Linked DNA regions of Homo sapiens. The protein of the gene in region 2 purifies or fractionates together with the protein of the main gene of each other region. This does not show direct contact. Each region holds a gene or a part of one and is shown on either strand. Other genes may lie near its edges.

The links.
Region 1: the proteins of SLC35C1 (region 2) and KIDINS220 purify together in Homo sapiens (affinity purification with mass spectrometry; one large-scale study listed by BioGRID and IntAct). This does not show direct contact.
Region 3: the proteins of SLC35C1 (region 2) and TMEM33 purify together in Homo sapiens (affinity purification with mass spectrometry; one large-scale study listed by BioGRID and IntAct). This does not show direct contact.
Region 4: the proteins of SLC35C1 (region 2) and NPR1 purify together in Homo sapiens (affinity purification with mass spectrometry; one large-scale study listed by BioGRID and IntAct). This does not show direct contact.
Region 5: the proteins of SLC35C1 (region 2) and DPY19L1 purify together in Homo sapiens (affinity purification with mass spectrometry; one large-scale study listed by BioGRID and IntAct). This does not show direct contact.
Region 6: the proteins of SLC35C1 (region 2) and HERC3 purify together in Homo sapiens (affinity purification with mass spectrometry; one large-scale study listed by BioGRID and IntAct). This does not show direct contact.
Region 7: the proteins of SLC35C1 (region 2) and ADCY3 purify together in Homo sapiens (affinity purification with mass spectrometry; one large-scale study listed by BioGRID and IntAct). This does not show direct contact.

The regions. Positions count from the first base shown.
Region 1 is NC_000002.12:8,827,386-8,831,575, reverse strand, and holds part of KIDINS220 (kinase D-interacting substrate of 220 kDa), read left to right. Parts: intron 1-4,190. UniProt on the Homo sapiens protein: Promotes a prolonged MAP-kinase signaling by neurotrophins through activation of a Rap1-dependent mechanism. Provides a docking site for the CRKL-C3G complex, resulting in Rap1-dependent sustained ERK activation.
Region 2 is NC_000011.10:45,803,447-45,808,244, reverse strand, and holds the start of SLC35C1 (GDP-fucose transporter 1), read right to left. Parts: upstream 3,097-4,798; 5' UTR 2,444-3,096; coding exon 1,909-2,443; intron 110-1,908; coding exon of another isoform or gene 66-109; exon of another isoform or gene 1-65. UniProt on the Homo sapiens protein: Antiporter specific for GDP-l-fucose and depending on the concomitant reverse transport of GMP. Involved in GDP-fucose import from the cytoplasm into the Golgi lumen.
Region 3 is NC_000004.12:41,933,787-41,938,593, reverse strand, and holds the start of TMEM33 (transmembrane protein 33), read right to left. Parts: upstream 3,166-4,807; 5' UTR 3,110-3,165; coding exon 3,065-3,109; intron 1-3,064. UniProt on the Homo sapiens protein: Acts as a regulator of the tubular endoplasmic reticulum (ER) network by modulating intracellular calcium homeostasis. Mechanistically, stimulates PKD2 calcium-dependent activity. Suppresses the RTN3/4-induced formation of the ER tubules.
Region 4 is NC_000001.11:153,684,996-153,689,185, reverse strand, and holds part of NPR1 (atrial natriuretic peptide receptor 1 precursor), read right to left. Parts: coding exon 4,102-4,190; intron 3,381-4,101; coding exon 3,306-3,380; intron 3,064-3,305; coding exon 2,986-3,063; intron 2,541-2,985; coding exon 2,436-2,540; intron 2,171-2,435; coding exon 2,099-2,170; intron 1,987-2,098; coding exon 1,830-1,986; intron 1,597-1,829; coding exon of another isoform or gene 1,574-1,596; exon of another isoform or gene 1,553-1,573; coding exon 1,397-1,552; intron 1,134-1,396; coding exon 965-1,133; intron 234-964; coding exon 87-233; intron 1-86. UniProt on the Homo sapiens protein: Receptor for the atrial natriuretic peptide NPPA/ANP and the brain natriuretic peptide NPPB/BNP which are potent vasoactive hormones playing a key role in cardiovascular homeostasis.
Region 5 is NC_000007.14:35,016,860-35,021,049, reverse strand, and holds part of DPY19L1 (protein C-mannosyl-transferase DPY19L1), read left to right. Parts: intron 1-2,453; coding exon 2,454-2,478; intron 2,479-3,080; coding exon 3,081-3,168; intron 3,169-4,190. UniProt on the Homo sapiens protein: C-mannosyltransferase that mediates the C-mannosylation tryptophan residues on target proteins.
Region 6 is NC_000004.12:88,703,580-88,707,769, forward strand, and holds part of HERC3 (probable E3 ubiquitin-protein ligase HERC3), read left to right. Parts: intron 1-518; coding exon 519-702; intron 703-928; coding exon 929-1,031; intron 1,032-3,172; coding exon 3,173-3,381; 3' UTR 3,382-4,190. UniProt on the Homo sapiens protein: E3 ubiquitin-protein ligase which accepts ubiquitin from an E2 ubiquitin-conjugating enzyme in the form of a thioester and then directly transfers the ubiquitin to targeted substrates.
Region 7 is NC_000002.12:24,832,744-24,836,933, reverse strand, and holds part of ADCY3 (adenylate cyclase type 3), read left to right. Parts: coding exon 1-17; intron 18-1,940; coding exon of another isoform or gene 1,941-1,997; coding exon 1,998-2,140; intron 2,141-2,287; coding exon 2,288-2,449; intron 2,450-2,467; exon of another isoform or gene 2,468-3,192; intron 3,193-4,190.

The DNA.
Region 1 (4,190 bases), on a different chromosome or scaffold from region 2:
GGAGCCCAGGGCCTGGCCCAGCTTGGGGTAAGCAGCCAGTCAATGAAGGCTTCCAGAAGATCTGTTAGAGCCATGTTCTTAAGGATGGGTAGGAGCTGTTCAGGCATATATACGTGGAGAATGGACTTTCTAAGCAGAGGGGGCATTAAGTGCAAAGGTCTGGAAAGAACAAAGTGTGGGGCAGTGAAGGAGCTGCAAGTAGATCAGTCTGGCTGGAGCTGGAGGTGTAGATGTGACTATGTAGAGGGTGGGAGGGATGGGGCTGAGGAGGGGAGAAAGATAAGGCTGGAATGGTAAGATGGGGCCAGATTGTGAAGAATCTGCATGCCCTCATCATAATCAAGAATTGAACTTACTGAGTTTTCACTCTGCTCAGTGGAGAGCAAAGCTTTCCGTAGGAATTGTGTATTTGCATCTTTACAATGGCTTTAAAAGCCTTAGAAGGCGTAAGTTCCTTGAATAACTTGTAAGTAGTAAAGCTGTCATCTGTCCTCCCAACCTTGGTTTTAGGAGAGATGTATTGTAGGTCACTCTTGCTTCAGTGTGGCAAATGGATTGCAGGTGGCAGGCCTGGAGAGAGGAGGCAAAAGTTGCTAGCCTGTCACATTGATCTGGGTGAGAGATGGTGTAGTAGAAGTTTTTAGGATTGATGCCTAGATCACAACTGTTTACTCTTTTCTGGAAACAGTGCCAATATGGTGTGACCTTGTAACCCCCTCCCAACTTTGTGTCTCTAGTTGCTTGGTTCTGGGTGTGCAACAGATCCAGCCTGGGCAGTCAGAGCCCTTTTCTGGGACTGTTGGATCTGGGAACAAAGAATAGCCTGCTTTCTCTGGTGTTAGAGACTATCTGATTTAGGCCAGGTGCGGTGGCTCACACCTGTAATCCCAACACTTTGGGAGGCAGAGGCAGGCGCATCACTTGAGCCCAGGAGTTTGAGACCAGCCTGGGCAACATGGTGAAACTTCATTTCTACAAAAAATAGAAAAATTAGCTGGGCATGGTGGTGTGCACCTGTAGTCCCAACTACTCAGGAGGCTGAGGTGGGAGGATCGCTTGAGCCCTAGAGGTCAAGGCTGCAGTGAGCCATGATCGTGCTACTGCACTCCAGTCTGAGTGACAGAGTGAGACCCTGTCTCAAAAAATAAATAAACGATCTGATTTGAGGCTGGATGGCTGTGGGAAGCCATATTTCCCTTTGTGTAGAAGTAGTTGGTCTAGAAGGAAAGTAGATTAAGCCAGTAGAGAAAGAGAATCCTCCTGGCATTTGAGGTCCAGTGGCACCCACTCTTCCTGTAGTGTGGTTATGGGAAATAAACCATTATCCTTCAAATACATTTTTCTGTTTTGCTTAAGCTAGTTTAAATTAGTCTCTTGCAACCTTAGGGGTCTTGATTAGTATAGATGGTGAAGGTCTAAACTAAGGCACTGAGTGTGGGGTTGGGTGATCTCACACTTTAGGGGGTAAACTGGATGAAAAATGGTAGCTGTGTGACTCAGAGGGAGATGGGTGCCTTGGTAGAGTAGAGATGAGGATGGTGTTCTACATGGAAGGAGCACATTGAGCATAGGCGGGAGTGTGGAGCAGCACTGGGGGAGTGTGGTGAATTTGAGTTCTTCTGCTTGGCTGGGCTGTGGGGTGAGCTGGGGCTGGTATAGAGGGAGAGCCAGATCCTGCAAACCTCACTGAGGCCTTAGGCTTGATCCTAGAAGGAGTGGGAATAAATGAAGGTAGGTGTTGGTGATGACTGCTAATACAAACCCTCACTGCTTTCTAATGATAGAAGCATCACATTCCAGAACATGTAGGAGATAAAGGTTTTAAAGAAAATAAAAATTACACTAATGCCCATCACCATTTGTTCTTTTTTTATTTCCAGTATTTAAAAATGTATACATTTAAAATAGCTGAGATGCTGTATATATAGCTCTTAATCTTTTACCTCACTTCTTCTATCATGAGCATTTTTCTGTAACACATTTTTTGAGACATTTTGATGACTGTATATTATCCTACTTTGTGAATTTTTATAATTTATATAATATCCATTTCTAAGATTTTTGTTCTTATGGATAAAATTGTTTTACTTAAAATCTTAAAATTTTGTTCATGTTTCTCATGTTTTTAGAATAATTCCTAGAAGTGCAACTATGGGATCAAATAACATCATTTTTTAAAATAATAGTTTTTCACCCCAAGAGTATAAATTCAAGTTGTTCTGAATATATACTCCCTAAAAGTAAGGTATACTGATTTATACTTTACATGTAATAACATTCACCCTTTTTAATGGACAGTTCTGAATTTTGACAAACGAATGATTGTGTAACTGCCACAACAGTCAAGATATAGAACAGCCATTAACTCGCCAAATTCTCTTGTACTCTTTTGTAGCCATCTCATTCCCCTGCCTTAGACCCTGGCAGCCCCGATCTGTTTTCTGCCCCTGCAGTTTTCCTTTTCCAGAATGCTATATAAGTAGAATCATATAGTGCTATAGTTTCTGCCCTCTGGCCCCCAGAGATAGATTTCCTTCCTGTGTCAAAACATATTCACTCCATCGCAAGGCCTCCCCAAAAGTCTCAGTTCATTTCAGCATCAACCCAAAGTCCACAGTCTCATTTAAATCTCATCATCTAAATCAGGTATGAGAGGGTCTGGGTGTAGTCCATCCAGAGGCATGATTCCTTTCCACCTGGGAAACGCAAGAATCAAGTTATCTGCTCCAACTTAGAGTTAGGGAATGGGCATGGGATATCAGTTATAGACAGTCCTGTTCAAGGGTGGAGGAAAAGGAAGGCAAAGAGGATTCACCAGTCCCAAATAATTTCATTTTCATAACAGCCAAAGTTTTCAATTTTGACGAACTCTGGTTTATCAGTTTTCTTTTTTTATGCACCATGCTTTTAGTGTTATATCAAATCTTTCTTAATCTAAGGTCACTGAAGTCATCTATATTTTCTTCTAGAAGTTTTGTACTTTCAGACATTATATTTAGGTCAATTTTGAGTTAGCACCTGTATGTGGTACAAAGTATGGATTGAGGTTTATTTATTTGCATTTGGATGTCCAGTTGAATATAATAAAATTTCTACTCTTTTAGAACTTATAGTTATGGTAGACAGACAATAAGTGAACAATATGTCATTTTTTGGATGGTGGCAAGTGGTGTGGAGAGCAGTGAAAGCAGGACAAAGGGTTGAGAGTGCAGGGTGACAGTGAAGCCTGTGTGGGGTCGGTACCCTGACATCCCACATCCGGTGAGACTTTGTAACCAGGTGACCTGACGGGGTCAGGGGGTAAGCCGTGTGCATGTCCTGTGGAAGAGAATTTTAGGCAGACAGAAAAGTAGCACAGAGGCCTGGCGAGGTGGGACGGTGCTCAGTGTGGCCATGCAGCCAGGAGGGTGAGAGGGGGTGGTAGGAGCTACAGTCACAGGTGTCACACAGGTGAGAGGCTTGCCACTGAAGAGTTATCTTGGCCAAGGTAAAAACATTTGATTTTACTTTGAGCACCCCGAGAAGCCCTTAGAGGGCTTTGAATAAAAGAGGCCATGCTCTGACTTAGTACTGCTCACATTGTGGTTCTTCCTCAGTGTTGTCAGTGTCACAGGGAGCTGGATAAAGATGCAGAGTCAGGGGCCCCACTCAGACCTGCTGAGTCAGAATCTCTGACGGTGGGGCCCAGGAATCTGCTTTAAAAGCTCTTCAGGTGATTCTGATATATGTTAAAGTTTTAAAAAAAGTAATGTAATTTTAATTGACAAATTATATATATTTAGGGGTACAATGTGATGTTTTGATACATGTATCCATTGTGGAATGATCAAATCAGGCTAATTAACATATTCATCACCTCCCATACTTAATTATTTATTTGCAGTGAGACCATTTAAAATCCACTCTTCCAGGTAAAGTGGAGGCAGGGAGGCCAGTTAGGAAGCGATGATAGTGACGCAGGTGAGTCACGGTGGCTCGTCCAGGGTGGCAGTGATGAAGTGGTGAGTAGTAGTCAGATGTGAAATGTATTTTACAGGTAGAGCCAAAAGCATTTGCTAATAGATTGAGTGTAGGGTGTAAGAGGAAGAGGTAAGTCATGAACAATTTCAATGCTTTTGGCCTTGGAAGAATGGACCTGGAGCTGCCGTTTACTGGCATGGTGACAGCAGGAGGAGCAGGGGAGCATTTTG
Region 2 (4,798 bases):
TACAGGCATGAGCCACTGTGCCTGGCCCAGAAGGAGCTTTGAAAGTTACTGTGTGACATGGGGGGCTAGGAGGGGAGGCCTAGAATAGTTGCCTGAGACTCGTCTTCCCCTACAAGGAGGAAGAAAGAGGAAACATTGCAGATAGGGAGCCAGGTCCTGGGCTGGCAGAGAGCGTCCACCTCCCTGGCCCCTGTCCCAGTCAGGCACGCCCGTGAATGCACCATTCTCAGAACCTCACCACTGGTTACTTGGATTACCTTTGGGATTTGGGCCCAGTTACCCTAGTGTCTTCACCTTCCTGCAAGCAAATTCTCCAACTAGGAGCCTCTACCCCTGAGGCCACTCCTGGCAGGGTCAGCAGGAATGAAGTAGAGAGCCCTGGGGCATCTGAGGAGGACAGGGAGGAGGGGAGGTACACCTGTTCCCTGGAGAGGGAAATGGAAGCAGGCTGGGAGAGTTCTGGCAGGGGGGGTCTTGCAGCTTCCCCTACTCTAACTGTGACCTTCTCCCTTCTCCCCTCTTGGACTTAGACCCAGCAGCCCTAGATCCAGCAGCTGCTCAACAAGGGGAAACATTTTCTAGGACAGGTGGCATGGGATGGGTCCCTTCCCCCACCAACCGGTGCATCTAGCCTGGGACCCTGAGCCATCAGCAAAGAATATGATATGTAGGCCAAATAAGATAAACTTTATAGCACCAGGAAAAACCAGCATAGGTTCAAATGAAGACCCCATTCCTAGATGACGCAGCCCTGGGAAGACTCGGAGGGAATGGGATGCTGGAGGCTCTCTAACGCAGCATGGGGCCCAGTAAAATATGGGCCCATCTAACCTGTGCTGTCCCATACCATAGCCCTCAGCCACATTTGGCTACTGAGCCCTTGAAATGTGGCTAGAAAATCAGGTTGTAACATCTGCAAATGAGGAAGTGAATGTTTAACATTTTGCTTAATTTTAACTAATTTAAATAAGTGGCCAATGGCTACTGCATTGAATACTGCAGTTCTAACCTCCAAGACGAGCAGAGGGGATAGAAGCACAGGCCTGGGAGTCTGGCCAATCTGGGTTTGCATCCCAGCCTGGCTGCTTGCTAGCTGTGTGGCCGTGGGCAAGTAATGTAACATCTCTGAGCCTCAGTTTCCTTGTTTGTATAGAGATGACCGCTGGTAGTGATGCCACAACCCAGGGGATCTCTGGGAGAACAAAGGAGATGCTATATGTGAAATAATTAGCATAATTTCCCCATCAATAATTATTATTTTCTGAGGGTCAAGTCCAGGAAGACAGCTGAGGCCTCTCAAAGCATATTGCTTGCTACTGTCTCAGGCGCTATCCTGAGCTGGCAGAGAGTGATGGTATATTTATTAAAAGACGTATTGTCCTCTACTAAGAGCACTGGCTGGGAAATCAGGACACCTGAGCTCTTGAGAAACAATAAAGTACAGTGGTCGGGCATGTGAACTGTGAAGCCAGATTGCTTGAGTTCAGATCCCAGCTCTGCCACTTATTAGCTGGGTGATCTTGGACAAGTTAGTTAACTTCTCTGTGCCTTGGTTTTTCCCTCTGTAAAATGTGGATTATAATCCCATCTTGTTATGAAGATTAGCTGAGTTAATATGGCTAAGATCCATGTGCCTGGCACATTTTAATCACTCAACAAATGTCAGTTGCTTTTGCTGCTGTTGTTACTATTATTATTACTATTGTTCTTGCCCCGGCTGGGCTCCTAACTTGCTGGGTGACCTTTAGTAAGTTACTTGCTCTCTCTGTGCCCCCAGGCTCTTTCTCCTATGACTGCTGCACCAAAGGAGCTGGGACAGATGAAGTCCTAGGATGCCTAGAAGAGTTGTTCTTCACTGCTTCAGTCCCCATGACCACTCTATCCCCCGTGGCCCCAGCTGCCACTCACCGATGATGATACCGCAGGTGAGCAGGGCATAGAAGGAGGTGGTCTGCTTGAGCAGCAGGTAGGAGAGCAGCACGTTGAAGACGGTGGTGAGTGAGCGGCCCACATTGTAGAAGGCCACACCGACGTACTTGAGGCAGAGGTTATTGAAGGTGATCATGCCGATGAAGACCACCGACAGGGGCAGGACGCTGCGGGCCACCCTGAGGTCCAGGCGCAAGCTGGGGAAGTCCACGGCACCAGGGCAGCAGGCGGCCAGAGCGCTGAGGCCTTTGCACAGCAGCGTGGTCACCAGGCACTGGTAGAAGGTGACGAAGATGGGGGTGTCCAGCCGCAGGGAGGGGCTGTCCAGCAGGTACTTATTAAGGAACACCATGGAGATGGAGGTGACCCAGTAGAGGGAGACCACCAGCGCGATCTGCAATGCCCGCAGCAGAAAGGGCTTCTCCCCGTTGGCCTCTGCCTCTGCAGAGGGGTCTGAGGCCCCGGTCAGCGCCATGTGCAGGATCCTGGACCGCTTCAGAGGGGCCCTATTCATGGTAGCAGAGGAGCTGGGTCACCCCGCGGCCAGAACTCTGATTCCCTGGAGTCCAGGGCAGTGAGCTCACTTGTGCTCTCCGCAAGGAAGCCGCAGCCCTCCATTGTCACATGTGGGCTGGCCTAAAGGCCTCCCCATTGTCCTCATGGATTGAGAAGTTCTGCTTTGGGGTGAGCCCAGTTGTGCTGCTCCACAACCTACTCCCACCCCGAGGGGGCTCTGAGACAAGACACAGGGCAAGGGAGAGGAATAGGATAAGGCGGTGAGGCCAGGACAGAGAAGACCTGTGAGGGGAGAAGAGGCTGGGGCCTAACAGGGAGGGGTCGCAGAGAGAAGGGAGGGGAGAGGAATGGCAGGGCGGGGCAGGAGTAGGTACGCGGGGCGAAGGTGCAGGAAAAGGACGCGTGGCAGAGTGGGAAGAGGTGCCGAGAGGGCGTCATGGGCGGCTGTGGGAGGGAGGGGCGGGCAGGGGGAGGGAGGCGTACAGGGAGCTGCCGGAGGCCGGGCGCGGCTGGAGGGAGGGCTGCGGAAGGGTCAGAGGGGCTCGGGGCTTGGGGCTGAAGGACGCGGGAGGGGGCTGGGCCGGCGCCCACGTCTCGCTGCCTTCCCGGGCTCTGTCGCCGGCTCAGCCCAGGAGCCTCCGGACATCCGAGGCCGACTCCCCGGGAGGCGGGCCCTGGACTCACTTCCTGACACGCCCCCACGTGGCCTTAAAGGGCCCGCACGCCCCGCCTTGCCCTTAAAGCGACAGCCCCAGAGAGGCGGAGTTCGCCAGTCCCCAGCCCCGCCCCTGCGCTCCGCTGCCCGCTGCTGGCGGGGGACCTCGGCAGCCACAGGTTTTTCTGGGTGCTTGAGCCTCGCCCTGCTTCCTGGAAGGGCTCCATCAACCTCGCCTGCCCACCCTCAGCTCCGTCCGCCCCGGAGCCTCCGTCCCCCGACTTGGCTAGGCTTGGCTCGCAGGTCCACTTCCCGGAACCCCGACCCAGGACCCGGGCGGCGCTACATCAGCCTGGACCCCTCCACCTCCGGAGACTCGCGTTGCAGCCCCGCGTCCCTCTGCCAATCCGAGCTCACTCTTCCATAACAATGTTGTGGTCCCCTCCTTTCCCCCCATTTTCACCGCCCCCAGGCCCTCTCCCAAGCCCGAGACCCCCGGCAGCGCTCCCCGAGGCCGGAGGCCACGCCGCCTCTCTCGGACTTCAGTTTGTCCTCCCTGTGCTCCTGTCGAGGTCCTCTGGGCGGCCCGGATCCGAGATTCCAAAGGCTCAAGACAGCATCTCTTACCCCTTCCAGAAAATACTGTTTCCCCGGCCGGTCCAGCCGCATCAGCTCCCGCGTCCCTGCCTGTGTCCCCGGGCCGCGAAGGCGACCTGGCGCTCACCTCCTCCGGTGCACTGGGCGCCCGCCCCGCGACCCCGTGCTGCATCTGCAGCGCCGCACCCTGGGCCGCGCCCGCGGGATCGACTTCCTGCTTTCCGCCCCGGGCCCGGGCACCTTGCCAGCCTCGCCGGCCTGTTCGCGGCATGGGCCCCGGGGGTGCCGGCGGAGAGGCGGTGATCCGGACGGTCGTGGGAGGAGGCCCTCTCCTCTTTCCAAGGCTACTCCTGTCCCTGGTACCCCCGCCCGCCCGGGACCCGGCTTCAGTTACCGCAGCTGGCACGTCCCGGGACTTGGCTGTATCCCTGGCCCGCCGCGCTACCGGCTTGCACTTCCAGAAGTGCGTGCGGGGACCGCTCGGATTCTTCCAGCTGGCAGTGAGGGGGAGGGTTCCCCGCCCCTTCCAGGGCCGGGGCCTGGGAAGTCTAGCCTGTGGTCTGCCACTCACCAGGCAGCCGGGGAGACCAGGAGGATCGACTTCTCTTGGTTCGCGCTCTAGCACCTGCGTTGGGCAGGCCACTTTCTCCGACGGCCTGAGTTATCTTCATGGTAAAACTAAGGGGCTAGGCTTGACCTGTGGGTCCCAACCTTCTTGCCCAGAACTCTAGGTGGTATGGTCGAACATAGATGTTTGTAATATTTCAAGCACCATTTAATTAGTGCCATTTAATTAACGGGTAAGATGATGTCATGGCTGGGATTTGTTTTAAAATACTAAGAATACTTACCAAAAATATTTTTTATTTTTATTTATTTATTCTTTTTGGGACGGAGTCTCGCTCCGTCGCCCAGGCTGGAGTGCAGTGGTGCTATTTCAGCTCACTGCAACCTCCGTCTCCCGGGTTCAAGCGATTCTCCTGCCTCAGCCTCCCGAATAGCTGGAATTACAGGCGTCCACCACCACGCCCGGTTATTTTTTGTATTTTTAGTAGAGACCGGGTTTCGCCGTGTTGGCCAGGCTGTTCTCTAACTCCTGAC
Region 3 (4,807 bases), on a different chromosome or scaffold from region 2:
AAAAAGAAAAATACTGTAAGCTATGCCTGCAAATCATGTTTTTAAGCATCAAGACTGTGTGGTTTTTATGTCTACTCAAAATATTTTAATCTTCCTCCATTTGTTTTTTTAGATCATTAGGTGAAAACTCTAAGGCAATTACATGTTTCATGTATATGCTTAATGAGAAGTCCAAACACCTTATAGTTTTCATGTGGAAAGCACAAGAAGTACTTAAACAGAAATAAATAGAAAAATATCAGCTGACATTTTAAAAAAATGCAAAGACTAATTAATTAGAAAAAATAATCTTAACAGAAATTCAACTACAATTGTCTGTGTTCCTTTAACACTTGCAATATTGGCTTCATCTATTTTAAAAGAACATTAAACAAAAACTAATTGCTCTCAAGAGATCCATATGCCTATTCTTAGCAAAAAATCTCAAATCCGAATAGGTAGGTCTCAGAGCTGAGTAAAACATCACATAAAGCCAGTTGGGATTAAAGAAACCTTTTGAAGAAGAAATATAAAACCATGATAGTAGTAACAACTAAACTCATTCGCCTTGTAATCTGCCTACATGCACAAGGGCCTGGCATACTCTAGGTGCTCAAAATGTGGCTGACAGGTATTAAATGGCCACCTGCCTCTCTGATTACACCACTCTCTTTATCACCTCCATGTTCCCCCACAAGTCTTACCCTAGTTTCGGTGGTCCTAGATTAAACTTTCCTATACCATTTTCTTCCCCCATTTTTTTCCCATTCTATCTTTCCTTTGCTGCTTTCCCCCCAATACTTATGTCTATTACCACTAAAGCAGAATCTTAAAATGTGTTTTCTCATTAAAATGTATCTTATATTCAAAAGTGGCTTTTACATTTTTTGTCTAGGATCTTCGTAATTTTAACATTGAGATCCATATACATGGATATATAAACAAAAGTTTCACAAATATTTACCCTACTGTATATAATGGATTTTGACATTTTCTATTTAATTTTTTAAAAATAGCTGGTGTTTACACTAAACTGACTTCTCAACTCACTAATGGGTCTACCTGAAGTCTAAAAACACTGCTCTATGTAATTTAATTTCATTATCTTTTGAAAAAAAAATATAAAAAATTTGAGGGAAAAATCCAAGTACATTGTAAAATTCCAGGCTGTTTTATTTTATGTCTTTTTAACCCACATGTAGGTAATTTCAGAAATATGAAATACAACTTTGATTTATCATTAAATCCAGACTTACCGTACTGTGACTCCAATAAACTGAAATGATTAGCAGTAATCAAGTGAAGGATGAATCCAGCTTACTGTGCTCAGTTTCTCAACAAATATTATGACTGGGCACCACAGCTTGAAAGTTAGTTTTAGAACATTCTCCTTAAAATCTATTTGTTCAGGTTGTTTATTCTGCAATAAATCATTGAGCTATGCGTTTCATTTTGTACACACTTATGTATATTATACAATTTTAAAAGTTTAAGAAAGTCTATTGGTATACATTTTTTAAGAGTAAACTGTCCAACCATCAGGCAAAAAAAAAAAAAAATCACTAGATCTTTGGGTGAAAAATTGTTGAGGAGCAATATTCACACAGTGTCACAGTATCATGCCAAAGAACACTTTTTAATTAGAAAGGAAAAAAGGTATCTTTACAATGGAGAAACTGGTGGACACCACCTTAATCAAATAATCAAACAAATTCTGCAATGATGGGATAAATCAATGTAAAATGCTTCCTGATATATAATATAGATATACATATTAGATGTACCTATATATGCTGCAAAACATGTCTGGACTCTTGAAAACTATCAGTATCTTAAAAGACAAAAAAGGGGAGGAGAGGGCAGAACTGTTCTAGATTAAAAGGCAGTAAACAAGATATGGCCAGTAAATTGAATGCATGCTTTCTGAGATAGGGTCTCGCTCTGTCACCCCAGGCTGGAGCGCAAAAGCACAACCCACCTCAGCCTCCTGAGTAGCTGGGACTATGCTGGGACTATAGGAGCGCACCTCCACGACCGGCTAATTTATGTTTGTTTGTTTGTTTGTTTGTTTTGAGAGAAGGTTTTGCTCTATCACCCAGGCTGGAGTGCAGTGGCGCGATCTTGGCTCACGGCAGCTTCAACTTCTCGGGCGCAAGCGATCCACCCGCCTTGGCCTCCCAAAGTGCTGAGATTACAGGCGTGAGCCACCACGCCCCGCCTAATTTCTTTGATTTCTAGTAGAGATGAGGTCTCGCTATGTTTCCAAGGCTGGTCTCTAACTCCTGAACTCAAGCGATCCTCCCGCCTTGGACTCCCAAAGTTCTGGGCTTACAGGAGTGAGCCACTGCGCCAGCCCATCGATGCATGCTTTTTGACAGAATCCCAGATGAAGAGAAAGCAGCTTTAAAGGACAATTATGGAAATTTGCACATGGATTTTATATTAGGTAATATTTCCCAAATGTGGTAACTGCATTGTGGTCACACAGAATAATACTTAACTACTTATGGATTAAAAAGTAGAGGACAGCAATGCTCCGGGCACAAATAACTTGTTAGCTCCAGATCAGCATCTTAAAAAAATTACAAAAGCATAATGATATTTCTCTTCATAAAGAACAAAGTGAAGAAGAAAAAGACCACCGCTCTCCTCCCTTTGCATAATTTCTATATACGATTGTATAAACTAGGCAGAAACGTTCTTTGCCGGCACTCGTGTGCTCCACGTGGTGTGTGTCATGGATCATGTGTGTCATGGCACAATCTCATGCGGCATCTTTAACCTTGGGGCCTACGGTAAACAAAAGACCGAGGTGGGAGAAGAGGAAAGAAGGCCCAATTTCCATGGCATACAGGTGGGGGCCACCAGCTCCAGGTCAGCCTATTGTCGCTTCAGAAACAAACTTGTAGTTCCCTCCATATCTTCGCTCAGGACCTCCCCTCTCCCCGCTCCAACTTCCCCACCCCAACTCATTAATCCCATTCCTGAATGCACTGAGCTTCTGGAACGCCTCGGGACTCGCAACGCTTCCTGCTTCTTCCTAACTCTTGCAAATCAAGCCAGACTACCCTGCCCTCGCACTTACCACAGCGCCCGCCCCTTGGGGGCCGTTCGGGGTCGTATCTGCCATGGGGGCTCACACTAGCGTCTGCGACGCCGCAACCGCGAAGAGAGAAGAAAGGGGAGAGAAAACGTCAGCGCTGGGGCCAGGACCCGGGTACCGGCTTCCCTGCCTCGCGCCACACACAGGCCGGATGCACCCTGCCGGAACTCTGAGCCTCCACCAGGGAAGGGTCTCGCTCGCCTGGTGCAGCCGACTGGATCCAGGGCACCCGCAGCAGCCGGGAGGTACCTGTCCCGCACCGCCGAGATCAAAGCGGTGTTTCCAGAAAGACGGGAGCGAAGGTGGAGCTTCGGGGTGAAGCCCTAAAGAGCCAACCTACGCCGCCGGCTCCAGGTTATTGCCGAACCCGGAAGTGCTCCTTTCATTTCCGTGGGGAAGAGGCGGTGACAAAGAGGGGGAAACGGGAGCGGTGCCCAGAGGCATGACGGGAAGTGTGGTTTTTTTCTCCTAATTTGAGCCCCACCTGTCCTTCCGCCGATTGGCCCAGTGAGCTAAGAAATCAGGATGGGGGAGCAACTTTTGCATTAAATACAGCTCACAAATGATCTTTCCTGCCCATTCTCAAACCATGAAATTTCCGCACTTCCTGATATAGAGGCCTCAGAAACATCTTTGATTCCTTTCTCCAGGGGCTTACTAAGCCCGTTGGTTCTACGTCTATTATTAATTCTTTCAATAAGTATTTATGAGGCCTGCTATGTGACAGGCTCCATACTTGGCACGGCGGATAAAAAGAGGAATATGACACAGATTGCAAAAGAGAAACAAGTAAACGGAAATCAGAGCATAGTGATTGTGTAATATGTGTAGAGGCTGATTTAATCACAGGGAGCACAGAGGACGGTACCTAAATCAGAAGGGATCTGGGGAGGTTTCCTGGAAAAGGTAAGTCCGGGCCTTGATCTTGAACGACAAAAAGTTGGCTGAAAGTGTTACTGGTGTAGGGTGTCCAAGTTCTTGGCGTTTTGAACATAGAATTGGACAAAACGCACAAAGCAAGGAAAGAATAAAGCAACAAAAGCAGAGATTTGTTGAAAATGAAAGTACACTCCAGAGTGTGGGAGAGTGAGACAGCAGCTCAAGGGCCCTGGATACAGAGTCTTCTCGGGTCCAAATACCCCCTAGAGGTTTCCCATTGGCCACTTGGAGTTCACTTCATGTAAATGAAGTGGTGGCCCGCAATCAGTCTGAATGGTTGCGCAAAGCAACCAATCAGAGGCTGAAGAAGTTACAAAGTTACACTTCTATGCAAACGTCTGATTGGTTACAAAAAGCAACCAATCAGAGGTACTTTCAATTTCCCAAATCTGCGCAGAACAGGTTGGGGCTTGCAAAGGGAGTAGTATCTGGCCCTTTATTCACTTAAGCGTGGACAGTAAGGATTTTCCTTCAATTTAGTTCTAGGAAGTCAGCGAGAAAGGGCATTAGGTTCCCTACCGCCATACCATATTCTTCTGCCTTAAAACGGGAAGGGAACTCCATACAGAGTAACAGAAAGTGCAAGAAGTAACAGGACAGCGAGAGGACTAGTTGAGTGTGACCAGAATGATGGTACCAGTCAGGGGATTGTGAAAGATTTGCGCTAGAGAGGCAGGCAGGGGTGTACTGAGGAAAGGATCTGAACTTGACCCTGAAATCCAGAGAACCATGGAACAATTTTAATCAGAAGTGTGACATCCTGAGATTTAGAAAGTTCTCTCTGGC
Region 4 (4,190 bases), on a different chromosome or scaffold from region 2:
AAGGGGTCAGGGCAGGTGCAGGATCAGAGTTGGGGGTCGGGACAGGGGCTTTGTGTTGGGGGGGGTCCCCAGACTCAGGCACTCACTGAGGCAGGATCTGGTAGAGCAGGGCCTCAGCCTTGCGCTTCTCCTCCAGGTATGCCTGGGTCCGCTCCTCCACCAGTTCCTCCAGATTGTTCGCGTACTGCTCCATGCGGGACAGCAGGTTGTCCAGGATGTTGCTGCTGTTCTCCCTGGGGGCAGAGGGTGGCGGTGGGGGTGGTAAGAGAGGAGCAGCACAGCCTACCGTGAGCGCCCGCCCCTAGGCACTTCCCCCTCCAGACTGCAGTGAGGTCTCTAGAGACGCTCAGGGTTGAGGGCATAGCAGGATACCGGGGAGCAGGGGAAAACAGAAGGAAGAAAGTTCAATTCTTTTCTGAGACCCCAAGGTCAAGTATGAAGCTTCAGACATATGGACATTTTGTTCATCTTTGTTGAACCCAGTGAGTTAGAAGGAGGTAAAGGAGGTGGAGAATGACAAGGGTCAATTGCGGACAAAGTGATGTCCACAGAAGGGTGTGTCTGGAGGAACTGGGCCTGGTGGGCACGCTGGGGAAGGGAAATCAAGGGGTGGGGCAGGAGCTCCCGTGGAGGGCCAAGAGCCTACAGGGCAGGAGGCGGGAGGCCCATCTATCCTACACACTGCTGAGAAGTCTAGAGGCCAGCAAGGCGAGTGGGCAGGAAGGGTGTGGGGTGTCGATGGTGGAGGGAAGGGGCATGAATGGCAGGGGACTGTGGGGACAGCTGAGTCATGCTGTACTTGCGAAGAGGGTCATGAGGCTGTGCTGAGCTGGAGCTGACTATGTACAGGGAGGAGGTGAGTGGTCTCCCTCTGCCACTGCTGGGATAAGCCAGAGCCAGAAGCATTAGGTAAATGGTGGCTGTGGAGGAAGGGCCTGGGGGATCCATGACAAACACCAGGGACCTGTTAAATTTGCGCAACGTCAGGCGGATCTGCTGGAATGGTGGCCTCTCCTGTGGGTCCTCAGCCCAGCACCGCTGCATGAGCAGCCCCAACTCCTCCAGGTGACTCTGCAGGGCCAGGGAGGGCCGGAAGGGGGGCTGCTCACCCCGAGTCACCCGCTCGATGATCTCTGTATTGGGGGGGTAGAGGAGCTGAGGGGTGGGGCTGGCCAAGGGCCTAGTGAGAGACTGGGGCAACCAGCTGAGATGGCAGGGGAAGTCCAAGACCAAGGCATGGGGGCGGGGGACTGGTCACTGGCAGCAATGGGTCAAAGGGTGGTGACTGAACCCCATTACAGAAGGAAGGTGTGGTGGTGCTGCCAGGGGACCCTCTCCCTGGGGCTGGGGTTCGTTGAGACTGTGGCTGGGTTTAAGGAAGGTGTGCTCCTCTCACCTTTGGGGCTCAGGTCCAAACCTTCCACGTGGAAGACCCCACTCCTCAGGGCAATCTCCTGAAGGATGATCCCAAAGCTGTATACGTCACCAGCCTGGGAGCCCCGCACAGGGGGTGAAGCCATTCGCAGGAGCTCAGGGGCCGTCCACAGCTTTTCTGTGGGTCAGAGGTCGGTAGTCACCGAGTGAGGGAGCCCAAAGCTAAGGGGTGAGGGGGAAACAAGGGTGTGGCCGAAACTGATCTGGATGCATCACAGAGTGTTAGAGCTAGAGGAGGCCTTAGAAACCACTTCGTCTGGCCTTCCCTTTTTCATGGGTGAATGAATTGAGGCTGGAGTCAGGACAAGCATGCCCAAGCCCATCAGAGGCCTTGCATCAGTCTCCCTACTGGGTGGTGCTGGGGGCAGGTGTTAGGTTCAAGAGTCAAGGCTCACTGGCATAAACGGTGTGTCCTTGCTCTGGGTCCAGGTCCCTGAAGCTCTCCAGCCCATAGTCGGTGATCTTGAGCACAAAGCGCCCATCTACCACGCAGTTGGATGACTTGAGGTTCCCATGGGAACAGATAGCCCCATTGTGTAGAAACAGCATGCCCTGGAAATGTGAGTGGGCAGAGGTATTGGCCAGGAGTGGGACCTACACCCGTGGCCAGGAGAAGCATGCCTGGCCCCTGCTCTACACATCCAATAGGTGCTTAGGGGCATACCTTGACGATGTCATTGGTGAGTGAGTACCGGAACATCCAGTCCAGGGTGATGCTCTCATTCTCCAGAATGTCCTGCTGGGGCAATAAGAGTCAGACCAATCCCCTGCAGATCCCCCTGGGAGTTGGAGGAGGGTGCAGGGTCCTACTGATGTGAACTGGTAGAACAGGACAAAACTTTGGATTGACTCTAGTGCCACTGCCCTTCCCCAACTCCCATTTTTACAGATGGGGCCAGAAAGGTCAGAAAGAGGGCGAGGCATGCCTGGGGTCTTATGGCCAGTCAGGGGCAGAGCCAGGGCTAGAACCCAGGTTTCTTGACACCCCTTGTCCCCCTCACCTGCAGGCTCCCACGGGGACAGTACTCTGTGAGGATGCAGATATTGGGGGGGTCGGTGCAGGCTCCCACAAACCTGGTCAGGTGTTCATTCTGCACATCCCGCATCTGCAAGTGGGACCAGCATCAGGAGCTTGACAGAGACCTCGCTCCTCACCAAGCTGCTCACTAGCTTCAGGGACCCTCACTCTTCTTAACTCCTTATTCACTTTCTGCAACCATCACTAAGATCTTCCCTGGTGATTCCCACCCATGTCCTTTAGCCCACCCTCCCCAGAATCTGCTCCTACTCCCTCTGCATCCTAAGCCCTCTCTCCCCCAGGGACATCACATATGGCCCCTCAAGATTCCTCCAGGTTATCTCCAGTGGTCTCTTCTCCTAGCTTAGGATACCCCCACTCCCACCCACAAGATGAAGGTCCATCCCAGGGCTCCAGTCCCTGCCCCTTTCTTGGGGTACCCTGAGGTCCCTCCATAACTAGTTCTGTTGGCCAGTCTCCCTTGCGTCCCCGAGGGCCCCTTCTCCATGCCACTGCCTCACTCCCCACATTACATGCTTCAGTTCAAACAGGACTTTTCGTGTCAGCTCAATGCGTTTACGGTTCACACGTTTCACAGCCACGAGGTTGCCCTGGGCATGGAATGGAGACTGTCACTGTGAAGAGCATGGTCCCATGTCCTGGGAATTCCAGCTGCTCCCGACAGCCCATCCCTGCCCTCAGGACCCTCACTTGTTCCCAATAGCCCACCCCCAGGGCCCCCATCTGCTGCTCCCCACCAGCTTACTCCTTCCCTCAGAACCCCCCACCAGTCCTCCATCAGAGTACACTCCTGCCCCAGTCCCAAGGCCCAGTGATCTTTCCCCAGGCCCACCTTATAATATGCTGTCTTGGCAAAGACTTGGAACTGGCCCTCTGTGGTTAGCAGGGAGCCGTAATTGGAGCCTCTCTGAAAGGAGGGAGAGCAGGAGGAATGGTCAGCCGGTGGGCCCAGTCTGCATCCTGATTGCTTGTGCTCTGGTCTTTATTTCCCTGCCTTATCCTGCCTTATCTTTGTGTCACCCTTCCTTTTTGTTGTTGGGTTTTTTTTTGAGATGTAGTATCATTGTGTCATCCAGGCTGGAGTGCAGTGGTGCTATCCTAGGTCACTGCCGCCTCAGACTCCTGGGCTCAGATGATCCTTTCACCTCAGCCTCCAGAGTAGCTGGGACTACAGGTATGCGCCACCATGCCCTGCTAATCTTTGTATTCTTTGTAGAGACGATGTCTTGCTCTGTTGCCCAGGCTGGTCTTGAACTCCCAGGCACAAGCAATCCTCCTGCCTCGGTCTCCCAAAGTGCTGGGATTGCAGATGTGAGCCACTGTGCCTGGCCCACCCTGCTTTATGTTCCACATCATAAAATTTCCTCCTCATTTACTTTTTTTTTTTTTAAAGTGTTTTCACAGGTACTATCTCCTCTGACCTTTAAAAGAGCCCTGTGAGGGAGGCTCTGCTGCTGTAATCATCATCTGAGACAGTCTCGGAGAGGGACTATGAGTCGCTCAAGGTCACACAGCAAGTGAAAGCAGAGCTGGGACTAGAATCCTGCTCCCTTACCTATCCCTCAGGCACTGCCCCTTGTACCCACCTCTCCTTTATTGCCCCCCAACACAAACACCAGCGTTCTTACCCCGCTCAGGGTCAGCCGGCTGCCTGCACTCCGCAGGTGCCTCTCAAGGCTACTGGGCTCAACGTCCTCCCAGCGCACCCGCCACAGCT
Region 5 (4,190 bases), on a different chromosome or scaffold from region 2:
ATTATTATATGTAAATAATACTGTTTAAAATGAAGAATTAGGGCCGGGTGTGGTGGCTCATGCCTGTAATCCCAGCACTTTGGGAGGCTGAGGCGGGCAGATCACCTGAGGTCAGAAGTTTGAGACAAGCCTGGCCAACATGACCAAACCTTATCTCTCCTGAAAATACAAAAATTAGCCAGGCATGGTGGCATTTACCTGTAATCCCAGCTACTCGGGAGGCTGAGACAGGAGAATCGCTTGAAACCAGGAGGCGGAGGTTGCAGTGAGCCAAGATCATGCCACTGCACTCCAGCCTGGGTGACAGAGCAAGACTCCTCAAAAATAAAATAAAATGCAATAAAATGGAGAACTGAAGATAAGTTTAAAAAACTATATGAATTAACAGTTTAGTAAATGAACCAAAAATAAATACATTGCAAAATAAATACTCTTCAAAAATAAATGCCTTAACAATATCCAATAATGTATAATAAAAAACATTTTATGAATATTAGCAGGAAAAAAATGTTTAACTCCCAGGAGAAACTTCATAAGAAATGCATATGTTAACAATACCTGTAGAATTTTTCTCAAGGACTATCGAAAAACAGTTTGAACAATTGAAGATATATGTTATGTATATATACACATACCTATATATACAACATATGTATATACCCACACCACATTTATGGATATGAAGGCTCTATATTGTAAACGTGTAAATTCTTCCCAAATTAATTTTATAAGTGAAAATCCAATTATAACCTCAGAGTGATTACCAAAGTAGAAGCATGGCAAGTCTTCAGTATGATAAAAGTTGCATTTACATTCAATGGGAGAAAAATAATTTATTCAGAAAATGATAGTTGAATCATTGTGAAAATAAAGACCAAATTTTATTATGTTAGGATTATTATTATTTTTTTTCTTTAGAGACAGGGTCTTGTTGTGTCATCCAGGCTAGAGTACAGTGGTGTGATCATAGCTGACTACAACCTCAACCTCTTGGACTCAAGCGATCCTCCCAGCTCAGCCTTCCTGAGTAGCTGGGACAATAGGCTCGTGCTTTGTAAAGACCTGATCTTGCTGTGTTACCCAGCCTAGATTTAAACTCCTGTCCTCAGCTGATCCCCCTACTTCCTCCAGCCGAGTAGCTGGGATTATAGTCATGAGCCTGGCAGATAAAGTTTTTAAAGACAGAAACTAAAAGGAAGCAAATGGTAGATTTGTTAATAAGAAAAAAATTTAAAATTTCAAAAGATCAATATATCTTATTAAAAAAAGTCAAATGACAAACTAAGTTAGATATTTGTAACTTCAATTATCTAGAAGTAACCATTCGTATTTCCAAGGCAAAATGGATTTTTAAATGAAAAAATATAACTGACTTTAAGAATAAAACAATAAGATCTGATCTATTTGGTTTTCATTTTTCTTTCCTTCTCTTCCTCCTTATTCTTCCTTCCTCCTCTCTTCTTCCTTCTTTCCTCTTCCTTCTCCTCCTCTTCTTCCTTCTTTCTTCTTCCTTCTCCTTCTCTTCTTCCTTCTTCTTCTTTCTTTTTCCTTCTTCTTCCTCCTACTTCTTCTTTTTCTCTTTCTTTTGTTTTTTTGAGAAACAGAGTCTCAGTATGTTGCCCAGGCTAGAGAGCAGTGGCTGTTAACAGTCATAGTCATAGCACACTGCTGCAGCCTTGAATTCCTGGGCTCGAGATGATGCTGCCTCTGCTTCCCCAGTAATGGATACTACAGGCATGTGCCACTGTATCTGGCCTGGGTTTCCTTTCTAGGAGTATTTTCATAGGTTGATTCCTTAGTTAAGAGTTATTTAATCAGAAGCCTGCCATCAGCTGTATCTTGTGAGATAAGAAAATTGAATGGTGTCTTCCAGGTTCATCTTAGTATGTTCTTTCTGCTTGGACAGATAGCAAGGTATTGATTTTCATATGAGACTGATTTTATTACTAGCTTGTTTTCTCTCTCTTACCTTTTCTTCTCCTTTACTCATTTCATTTTAAATTTGTTTAAAGACACGGGTTAATATTTGTCATAAAATTTCAGGCATTGCAGCAGTATATCAGAAGTGGTAGTTCCCTTTTTTCTTCCACCCCCAATCCTGTACCCCTCAGCCACCATATTTCTTTATTCTAAGTTATCCTTACCTGTTGATTCCATTCCTCTCTCAGTTCTATTAGCAATAGTTTCCATCTAATGGTTTCTGTCTATTAGCGGATATTAGGCCTTCATATATTTTGTTGAATGAGTGAGTGAGTGAAAATGGTGGCTGTATGCTTAATTCCCTTATGAGCTAGTCAATCACAATTTTAAACGTAGCCCTGGGACTTTTTTGAAGACCCAGTATTCTTTTTTACACATTTCAATATTTGACATGCTTTATCTTTGAAATGGCTTTTCTGTAAGATGAACATGTTTATGCTAAAATTCTAATTTAAATTTCTTTTTTCTTACAGCTGTTTTTGCAGCAGTGTTGCACTGGTAAGATTGTTTTTTTCTCCTATGGTATTTTATGCAGACGTTTATAACTTGCTAAAGCTATTTCCCATACATTTAAAGGAATAATTTCAGCATGATCAGTATGAATATATATTACATGTAACACAATAGTCTGAAAAACTAGTTTAATTGATAAATCAGGGTCAGAATAATATAATTGTTTAATAAAAAAGAGATTCATTATTAAAGAGGCTATATTTGAGACTCCACTCAACATTAATATGTTCATGGTGAGAGAGAGATTAATTTATTTAATCTTCTAGATAGAAATATGAATTTCATTAGATGTTTCTAAAATGGTAACCCAATGACATTTACAGTTTAATCTATACTTTTATTGTACTTCACTTAAAATATTCTGGTTCATTTTAATTTTAAAATCTAATTTGATTTTTTAGAGAGGGAAATTTTAGTATAAATGCAATACATACTGAGTGAAAAAAATATAGATACTATTGTATTTGAGTGTTATTACAAAATTATCTGCAAGTTAACTGATACTTTTATTTTTGCTTTTAGCTTACTTTAAAAAATAATACTTAGAGTGTAAGTTTTAACACTATTGCTTTGTTTTGTTTTTCCAGGAGCCATATAACACACCTCTTTGAAAATGACCGTCATTTTTCTCACCTCTCAACATTGGAAAGGGAGATGGCTTTTCGCACTGAAATGGTTAGTTTTTATTTGGGATTTCATCATAGTACTTTAGGAATTTAAAAACATTTAATATTTTTTATTATGGAAAATTTCAAGATGTTCCAAAGTAGAAAGAGTAGATGCTCCACCTTCTACAGCTGACAGCCACAGCCAGTTTTCCTTCATCTACACCCCCACTCACTATGTCTTTTTTATTTTTTATTTTTATTTATTAATTTTTTTTTCGAGACGGAGTCTCGCTCTGTCGCCCAGGCTGGAGTGCAGTGGCTCCATCTCGGCTCACTGCAAGCTGCACCTCCCAGGTTCACGCCATTCTCCTGCCTCAGCCTCCTGAGTAGCTGGGACTACAGGTGCCTGCCACCATGCCCGGCTAATTTTTTTTTTTTTTTTTTTTTGAGACGGAGTCTCGCTCTGTCGCCCAGGCCGGACTGCGGACTGCAGTGGCACAATCTCGGCTCACTGCAAGCTCCGCTTCCCGGGTTCACGCCATTCTCCTGCCTCAGCCTCCCCAGTAGCTGGGACTACAGGCGCCCGCCACCGCGCCCGGCTAATTTTTTGTATTTTTTTAGTAGAGACGGGGTTTCACCTTGTTAGCCAGGATGGTCTCGATCTCCTGACCTCATGATCCACCCGCCTCGGCCTCCCAAAGTGCTGGGATTACAGGCGTGAGCCACCGTGCCCGGCCAACTATCTCTTTTTAAAGGGAATCCCAGACATTATATCATTTCATGCTTTCATACTTTCATAAGTGTCTCTAAAGATAAGACTTTGTTTTAACTATGGCACAAAACCATGGCACAAGACATACTGGAAAACATTTAACAATATCCTTAATATAATCAAATAGAAATCAGTATTTAAATGCCCTGTTTGGCACTTTAAAAAAAAAAAAACAAAAAAACAGTTGATGTGTTTGAATAGGATCCAAACAGTGCCTACACATTGCATTTAGTTGATGTGTATCTTAAGTCTTTTAATATGTGAATTTCTTTACCTGTTTTTGTTTTGTTTTCCTGCTATTTGTTTGTTGAGAAATC
Region 6 (4,190 bases), on a different chromosome or scaffold from region 2:
GAGCCTTTATTTGAGATGGTTCTTCCCAGAGGTAAAGGTTTTATAAACAAGGAGTTATAAAATGAACCTTTTAAAACAGGTGAGGATACAAGTATCAAGTGGTTTAGCTTTATTTGTTTCTGAGGAAAATGGCCTAGAACTGTTATCCTAGACTTTTTATTTTAAGCAGAAAAGGTCTTATTATTTTTTCCACACTAAATTTTAAGCAGGGCTTTTAACATGAAAACTGGAATACCTCAGGTAAAGCCAGTAGTTTAGTTCTATATACCTGGCCTGCTGCCCTTCCTATCTGGCTTATCCTGCCTTGGATCACCTGAGGCACTTGGTGGAATGTTAGGGCTGGGGATGGAGAGGGAGGAGAGGAGAGCTGGTAACCTATATGATGCCTTAGGATGCCTCCTGATTTGAGAATTTGATGAAATTCTATTTTTTATCACTCCCAATCTCAGTGTAGAAGGGTAACTTCATAAGCTTTACAAGACTTTGAGCTAAATGTATTTTCTTTTGTGTTCTGGCAGGCAGGAATTTGTGGATGCTTATGTGAATTATGTCTTCCAAATCTCAGTTCATGAATGGTACACAGCCTTCTCTAGTGGCTTCCTAAAGGTGTGTGGTGGCAAAGTACTTGAGCTCTTCCAGCCTTCAGAACTGAGGGCTATGATGGTGGGGAACAGCAACTACAACTGGGAAGAACTGGAAGAGGTAAGCACAAAAGATCCTTTAACTCCTTTAACTCCGGCGAAGCAGCAGCAGCCTGGGGAGGTGTTCCCAGAGCCTGGTCTCGTTCCAAGCATACTGTGGTTGAGTTAGATTTAGAGGTGTCCTGTATCTCAGCACTTATTTCTTAGCCTCAAATGCAAATGATATATAATGTCCACTATAATATTCTTCCAAGATACATTTTTTTCTTTTTCTCTTTTTTGGACAGACTGCCATCTACAAGGGAGATTACTCGGCCACACATCCCACTGTAAAACTATTTTGGGAAACATTTCATGAGTTTCCATTGGAAAAGAAGAAGAAGTTTCTCTGTAAGTATCAGTAATCTCAATATGGTATTTGTCTACATTTTAGTCTTACATACAGTATAGGATGACATGCTCCACAGCTGAGGCTTAACTCATTTAAATGGTAAAGACCAGGTAATTCACTATATGTATGCTTTTTGTCTTAATGTTATCTCAGGCACAATATAGGTTGTTAATCCAGATCTGTTGCCTAACAAGAGGGGTTGCATGAAAGGAAGAAAAGAAGCATCTCACTGATTTTTCTTTTCTTTCTTTCTTTTTTTTTTTTTTTGAGACAGAGTCTTACTCTGCTGCCCAGGCTGGAGTGCAGTGGCGTGATCTCAGCTCACTGCAACCTCCGCCTCCTGGATTCAAGTGATTCTCATGCCTCAGCCTCCCAAGTAGCTAGGACTACAGGCACCTGCCACCATGCCCGGCAGATTTTTATATTTTTAGTAGAGATGGGCTTTCACCATGTTGCCCAGACTGGTCCTCGTCTTGAACTCCTGACCTCAAGTGATCCGCCTGTTTTGGCCTCCCAAAATGCTGGGATTACAGGTGTGAGCCACCACGCCTGGCCTGATTTTTAAATTATTCTAAAAATACCAATTATTTTATATGTAAGTTATTCAAGTATTCCATTTATGAAGTCAAATTGTTTGGATTAACCTCTCTTATCTCTCTAGCCTTTAAAATATATTACAAAGTATCCAGATGGAACTGGGAAGGTGTGATTTATAGCAGCTTTATTGGGCTATAATTTATATACCATACTCATTTAAAGTGTATATTTCAGTATACACACAGTTGTGAAACTAACACACAGTCAATTGTAGAATACATTCATAACCTCAAAAAAGAAACCCCATACCTATTAGCAGTCATTCTCCATTTCTTCCCAGCTCCCCCACCAGTCTTTCTGTCTCTATGGATTTGCCTATTCTGGATATTTCATGCAAATTGAATCATATAATATGTAGACCTTTGTGGCTGGCTGAATGACATTTGAGAAGGGTAATAATACCTTTGGAAAGGAGAATGAATTCTAATTTACATGAACAAATTCAGCCTTTTAAAAATGGTTGAAATATTTCTCAGTTTGTGTCTGTGTGTAATCAGCGTCAGAAATTAGCTAGTGCATAGTATGGAATTTTAGTCATGTAAAATCAAAGCACAGGGTTTGATAGGCAGTCTATTTTGCTTTATAAGATGGAGCATATATTAGTATTAATGTAGGACTTAACAGGTTCTGCTGCTCACATGGGAGCAAGGATGAGAGGAAGTGGAGATCTTACACAAGAATTCTTAAAAAGAGGGACCACTTCTCCTCTGCCTGGCTGCATTGGCTATTGAGAAGCAGTAGTGGAAGAGCTGAATGACAGGTTAAGGTTTGCCAAGTGAGCTTGTAGGGCTGTGACATTCAAGAGATGCCTGCTCATGGTCCTGGAATTTCCCTAGAAAATGGCACTTTCTGTTCATTAGACTTACAGAAATGTTTGTTAACTCTGGAGATTTTTGGCAAGAAACTTTATGTATCACAGCCTCAGGGAATGGCAGGTTATTTGAAAGTGCTTCTTAACTAATGATTTTCTTATAGTAATTTCCAGCAATTCAACTATGAGAGTGTTGTTCAGCACTAGAAAACAAGGAGCTGTCTTTCTCTGTCTGTCTCCCTCTCTCTCTTTTGCCAAGTCACAGTGCATGTCACAAGAGTGCAATGTCTAACATAATGTTTGGGTCAGCTCTTCGGGTTTAAGAAAAATGGAGACGTGGAAAGGAGAGCAAATAGATCCTAAATGGAATTCCGTAGACAAGGTGGTACAGGCATCAGGCACTTGAGGTGAGAGGAGACCCTGAGGTCAGAGACTTCAGTCTTCTTCTGTTTTCCCCTTAAGATCAGCTCCTCTTTTCCTATGACAGCAATTCCTTCCCTCTTTGATTTTGTGAAATCTAACATTTGTGAGGGTGTACATTTGATTGAGGCCTTTTTTTTTTCTTAACGGCATCTAATTTTCATTCCACAGGATGCATATTGGCACATAAATGTAATTGTACTTCTCATGCAAGCCACAGGGTGTCATGCCTTCCTCTCCTGTTGCCAGAAGGATCTCTGAGATCCATTTTCCGTTTGCTTAGCTGCTAATGCCATTTCTCGTTCTCCCCAGTGTTCCTGACAGGCAGCGATCGGATTCCCATCTACGGCATGGCCAGTCTGCAGATTGTCATCCAGTCCACAGCCAGCGGGGAGGAGTACTTGCCGGTGGCCCACACTTGCTACAACCTTCTTGACCTCCCCAAGTACAGCAGCAAAGAGATTCTGAGTGCCCGGCTGACCCAGGCCCTTGACAACTATGAAGGGTTTAGTTTGGCCTGAGGCTTCTCAGCTTGTCCAGTATTTCCCTTCGTTCCTCAGTGTCCACATTGAGGCCTATACAGAAAATCATGGGGAGTGATTTCTATTTTTTTATTGTCTAAGTGGGTTGGGACTTTTAAATACTGAGCCTGGTTGATGTGTTTCTGGGATTGTATAGCAGTAAACAACCTTTTTGAAAAATTAGAGGTTGGGGATGGGGTGAAAAATTGGCCCTTGTATGGGAGGTGTTTTTGTTTTTGTTTTAAACCAAACTACCCAGTATTCCTTGCACTTGTGAATGTGTTGCACTCTGCTGGATGAAATGGCAGTGGATTTTTAAACTTTAATTTCCCAAATGTCTCTCTCAGCCCTGATGTTTTCTCACAGTGCTTCCTTGTCCTTCTCTTAACTTCTCATTCCTCTATAAGAATGATTTAGACTGACCTGTCCTTTTTTATCTGCGCATGCGAGAACATCACCTTCCTCTGTACACTTGGAAATGCCTCTGGCTTGTTGCAGCCCTCCTTTAACCCAAAGGAGGAAAGGACTGCTTCAGAAACTCCCAATTCCAAAAAGCTGAGTCTGGGTCCATTATTTTGGCAGAACTCCTAAGAATTTATGGGAGCCTATATAAACATATCTTGCTTTTAAAAAGTTCTTGAGGGAATAGCAACTTTCCCATGGCTGTGCCTATTTCCTAGACCTTTTAAAAGATGTGCAGAGCAGCTTAGCATTCGTTGCAGCTGAGCCTAATTTTTTCTTGCTCATCCTTGTCCCTTTGACAATAAGGTTAATTGATAGACCCACCACCTCTTGCACTCTCGCTTTTG
Region 7 (4,190 bases), on a different chromosome or scaffold from region 2:
AGGAGCAGGATGCCCAGGTATGTGCAGGGCTCAGGGCAGGGGGTCACTGAGGGCCAGATGCGGGCAGGCACCAGGAAGCAATACGTTCCTGCAGCAGGAGTCCTGTGCTGGGGAGACCTGGCCACCACCCAGGACCTGCTCCTGCTTAGCACTGTAACCATGGACAGGTCACCCCTCCAGCCCCGCAAAACCCCACTGTCTCCTCATCAGTTACATGCCGGGGTGAGTAAGGTCAAAAGAGGTGCTTAGCTCGGAGGCCTTTGTAGCTCTGATGGCCCGGAATCCTGTAGATTTGAGATCAGTGAGGACATCCATGGAAAATTATATAGGATCTGAGACCATTTTGGAAGTGAGATATCAGACCTGGACTCACCCCTCTGGCTAGGTTCAAGCCCCACAAGTTCCATGCAAGATGGGATATTTCCTTAGCCCCCAAAGGCGAGGAATTAGCATGCTGTCCCAGAGTGCAGGGTGCCTCTTGGGGAGCACCCAGAACTGGTCCCTGACCGCAGGGCGTCTGGAGCACGTTCACTGATGGAGGTCAGTGCTGCAGAGATGGGATGTCTGCCCTGCTCGGGCTCACCGCGTGAGGGGGACAGGAGAGCTGGCCCTGGTGCCATTAGAGCAGATGCCGTAGAACAAGAGGGTAGATGGGGCTCAGGGTAAATTAGGTTTTTCTTGAGTCCCCCAACATTCAGTAACTTTTCCTTGTTGCAGTTTTCTTGATAGAAAGTGGGGGTCCAGACTCAGGGCACTCACTAGCAAGGAGGACACAGATGCAGCTTTAGCAGCCTGATTTTTCGGGCCCTGACCCTCAGCCAGGGCCACGCTGCTCCCGGATCTGCTTCAGGAACAGGTTCCCGCTGCTGCCACAGACCATCCACGTGATTTTACAGAAGGGGAAGATGTGGCTGGGGAAACATTATCTGGGGTCAAACTGTCAACCAGTGGCACACCTGTGCCTGTGCTTAAGACCAGGGAGTCTTTTTTTTTTTTTTTTGAGATGGAGTCACGCTGTCACCCAGGCTGGAGTGCAGTGGCGCGATCTTGGCTCACTGCAACCTCTGCCTCCCGGGTGCAAGAGATTCTCCTGCCTCAGCCTCCCAAGTAGCTGTGATTACAGGCGTGTACCACCATGCCTGGCTAATTTTTGTATTTTTAGTAAAGATGGAGTTTCACTATGTTGGCCAGTCTGGTCTCAAACTCCTGACCTCAAGTGATCCACCCACCTCAGCCTCCCAGAGTGCTGGGATGACAGGCGTGAGTCACCGTGCCCGGCCCCAGGGAGTCGTGACTGTGGCTCCCAGATGCACTGTTGAACCCGTTCAGACAGCTCTCAGCCCGTCTCAGTGACTATTCAGACTGATGGCTGTGTCATCACAGCCAGGATTCCTGTTTTTGGAGTTGATGCTTTTTCTTTGGAACTGGGAATAAAAGGGTAGTGGGTGCCCCAGCTCCACCTACCCGCCCCTTGTCAGCCCTCTAGTGATGAGGACATTCTTCTCTCTCCCATCACTTTCCCCCTCAGATCTTCCTTTCCAAATGAGCCAGATGTGAGTTCCTTTAACAGTTCCCTGAAGCCCTAGAGTTGGGAGCCATTCATGTCCCCAGGCTGCCAATGTATATGGCCCCCACATCAATACAGCAGGAAGTGCCAGGACTGCCTCAGCCCAGCAGCTGTCTCCGATTACAGGTCTCCTGCTCAGGAGCCAGGGGCTGCTCCCTACAATGCTGTCATTAGCGGACCCTCCCTGCAGAGCTCTGGGTGGGGGGCCCGGGGAGCCAGGAAAGACTGGAGCTTTGGGTGTAGATCCAGGCCACATGGAGCCACGTGGGAGCATGGGGAAGACTTCCCGGAAAGGGATTTTAGAGCTGGAGGGATTGGTCCTCCGAGTATGCCCTCTTTTGTTCCTTTCCTCCTCCACCTCTGTCTTTCCCAGCTCTTCCCCACCACTCTGTCCCATCTGCCCCACTCACGCTGCCTCCCTGGCTCACAGGCCGACAACCCCTCATTCCCCAACCCACGCCGGAGGCTGCGCCTGCAGGACCTGGCTGACCGAGTGGTGGATGCCTCTGAAGATGAGCACGAGCTCAACCAGCTGCTCAACGAGGCCCTGCTTGAGCGAGAGTCCGCCCAAGTGTAAGCGCCACCCGGAAGCGTCCAGGCCCACCACTCCTCCCGGGCCCTGACAAGGGATTCAGGAAACTGAGCATCCCAAATACGGCCCCCCTGCTAGGCCAAGGCAGATGTGGCATTTGGGATTCATGGGGCTTGTTCCCACTGCAGAGTAAAGAAGAGAAACACCTTCCTCTTGTCCATGCGGTTCATGGACCCCGAGATGGAAACCCGCTACTCGGTGGAGAAGGAGAAGCAGAGTGGGGCTGCCTTCAGCTGCTCCTGCGTCGTCCTGCTCTGCACGGCCCTGGTCGAGATACTCATCGACCCCTGGTGAGGGAGGGGCCGGGGAGGGCCACGAGTTTCCTCGGCTGCGGTGGTGCCGGGCGGGGGGCGGGGGCAGGTGTCTCAGCGGGAGCCTGACATTGGGGAGCAAGCCAGTCTCTGCTCCCTGACCCCCACTGGGACGGCCCCCACAGGCCCCAGGAGTGCTAGACGGCACCCTGGGCATCCTTCCTTTTCCCTGCCCCGCGTTTTGGAGCAGTCCTAGCGTCAGAATGGGGATCTGGCCAGGATCAAGAGAGCTGAGGGACAGAGGCCTCCAGAAGGCTGGAGACCTTGGCTAGATGGGCCCACACTGATTCTTGGGACAAAGATGGGGACACTGCGTCAGTCTCAGTCACCAAGGCTGACCTGGCCCCTCTCTTGGCTCATCTTGGTAAAGATAGATTTTAGGCTGTGGGCACAGACTGACGCCCTCTCTAACGCAGCAGTAGGTCCTCCAGGGCAAGGTGTGGCCTCCTGGAGTCCCCAGCTGGTGAAGCCCTGTCTGAGGGTGACGACCACTCTCTTGTTCTCCCTTTCTCCCCTCGGCCAATCGGGGATTCCCCGTCACAGAGGAGGGGTCTGGAACCCTGCTGGGATTACAGTTTGTCAGGAGCCTTGGGCTGGGTCACACTATCTAAGGTTGCGGGTGTGTGACCACGTGCAGGCCACTGCAGGCTCCGGCAGCATCTGTTTCCTCATCTGTGAAATGAGGAGAACAACCCCTGCCCTAGCGGACACTCACGACTGTGGTGAGGCTCAAATTCACTCATTCCATAAGTATTGATTGGTTGTCTGCTTCATGCGTGGGGATCAAGGGCTGGGGCTATGGCAGCGATGCGGCACACAGAAACCCCTGCTCTCGTGAAACTTGGGTTCTGGTAGGGGAAGCTACAGGCAAAAGCAATTAAACAATTAAAATATGCATCCATGCGAGAGTAAGTACTGCAGACACAGGGAAGGCAAGGAAGGGAGGCGGGTATGCTGCTGGGGAGCTTTGTTTTGTTTTGTTTGCATTTTGATGTGGGATGGTCAGAGCAGGACTTGCTGGCAGGATAATATTTCAGTAACGCCTGGAAGCGGGTGAGGGGCGAGCCTTCTCCTATCTGGGGGACACCTGCTTCGGATAGAGGTGCTGAGGCTGGAGTGGCCTGGCCCCTGGAGGCACAGTGAGGAGGCATCGCATTGGGAACGGGCCACAGGAAGAGTAGCAGGAGTCCAGCACAGACGTGGGGCCTCCTACACGCCACTGCAGGGTGCCAGCTTCCACTCTTAACACAGGAGGCCGCCAGAACAAGGGAGCAGAGGAGTCCCCTGTTGTGACATATGCCTGGAGAGGCTCACTCCTGCTGAGAACAGCGCTTAGTGAGCACAGCGGGAGCAGTGAGACCAAATAGCGGCCCAGACAAGCCACTGTGGTGGCCAGGCCAGGCCGAGGATAGAGGAGGATCAGTGGTTGGATTCCGTCGATAGATGCTGAATGTATTTTGGAGACAGAGCTGACAGGATTTGCTGGCAGATTGGTTGTGGGGCGTGAGTGTGGAGTTGAGGATGTCTCCTGGGCTTCTGATCTGAGCAACTGGCAGGACGGGGGTGCCGTTAACCAAGATGGGGACAAGGTGGAAAGATGAGAGTGGAGAGGCAAAGATCAGGAGTTTGCTTTGGGACACGTGAAGTTTGCAGTGCCCACAAGCCAAGGAGGCCAGCATCCATGATCTGGAGTTTGGAGGGCGGGTGGGGTTGGAGACGT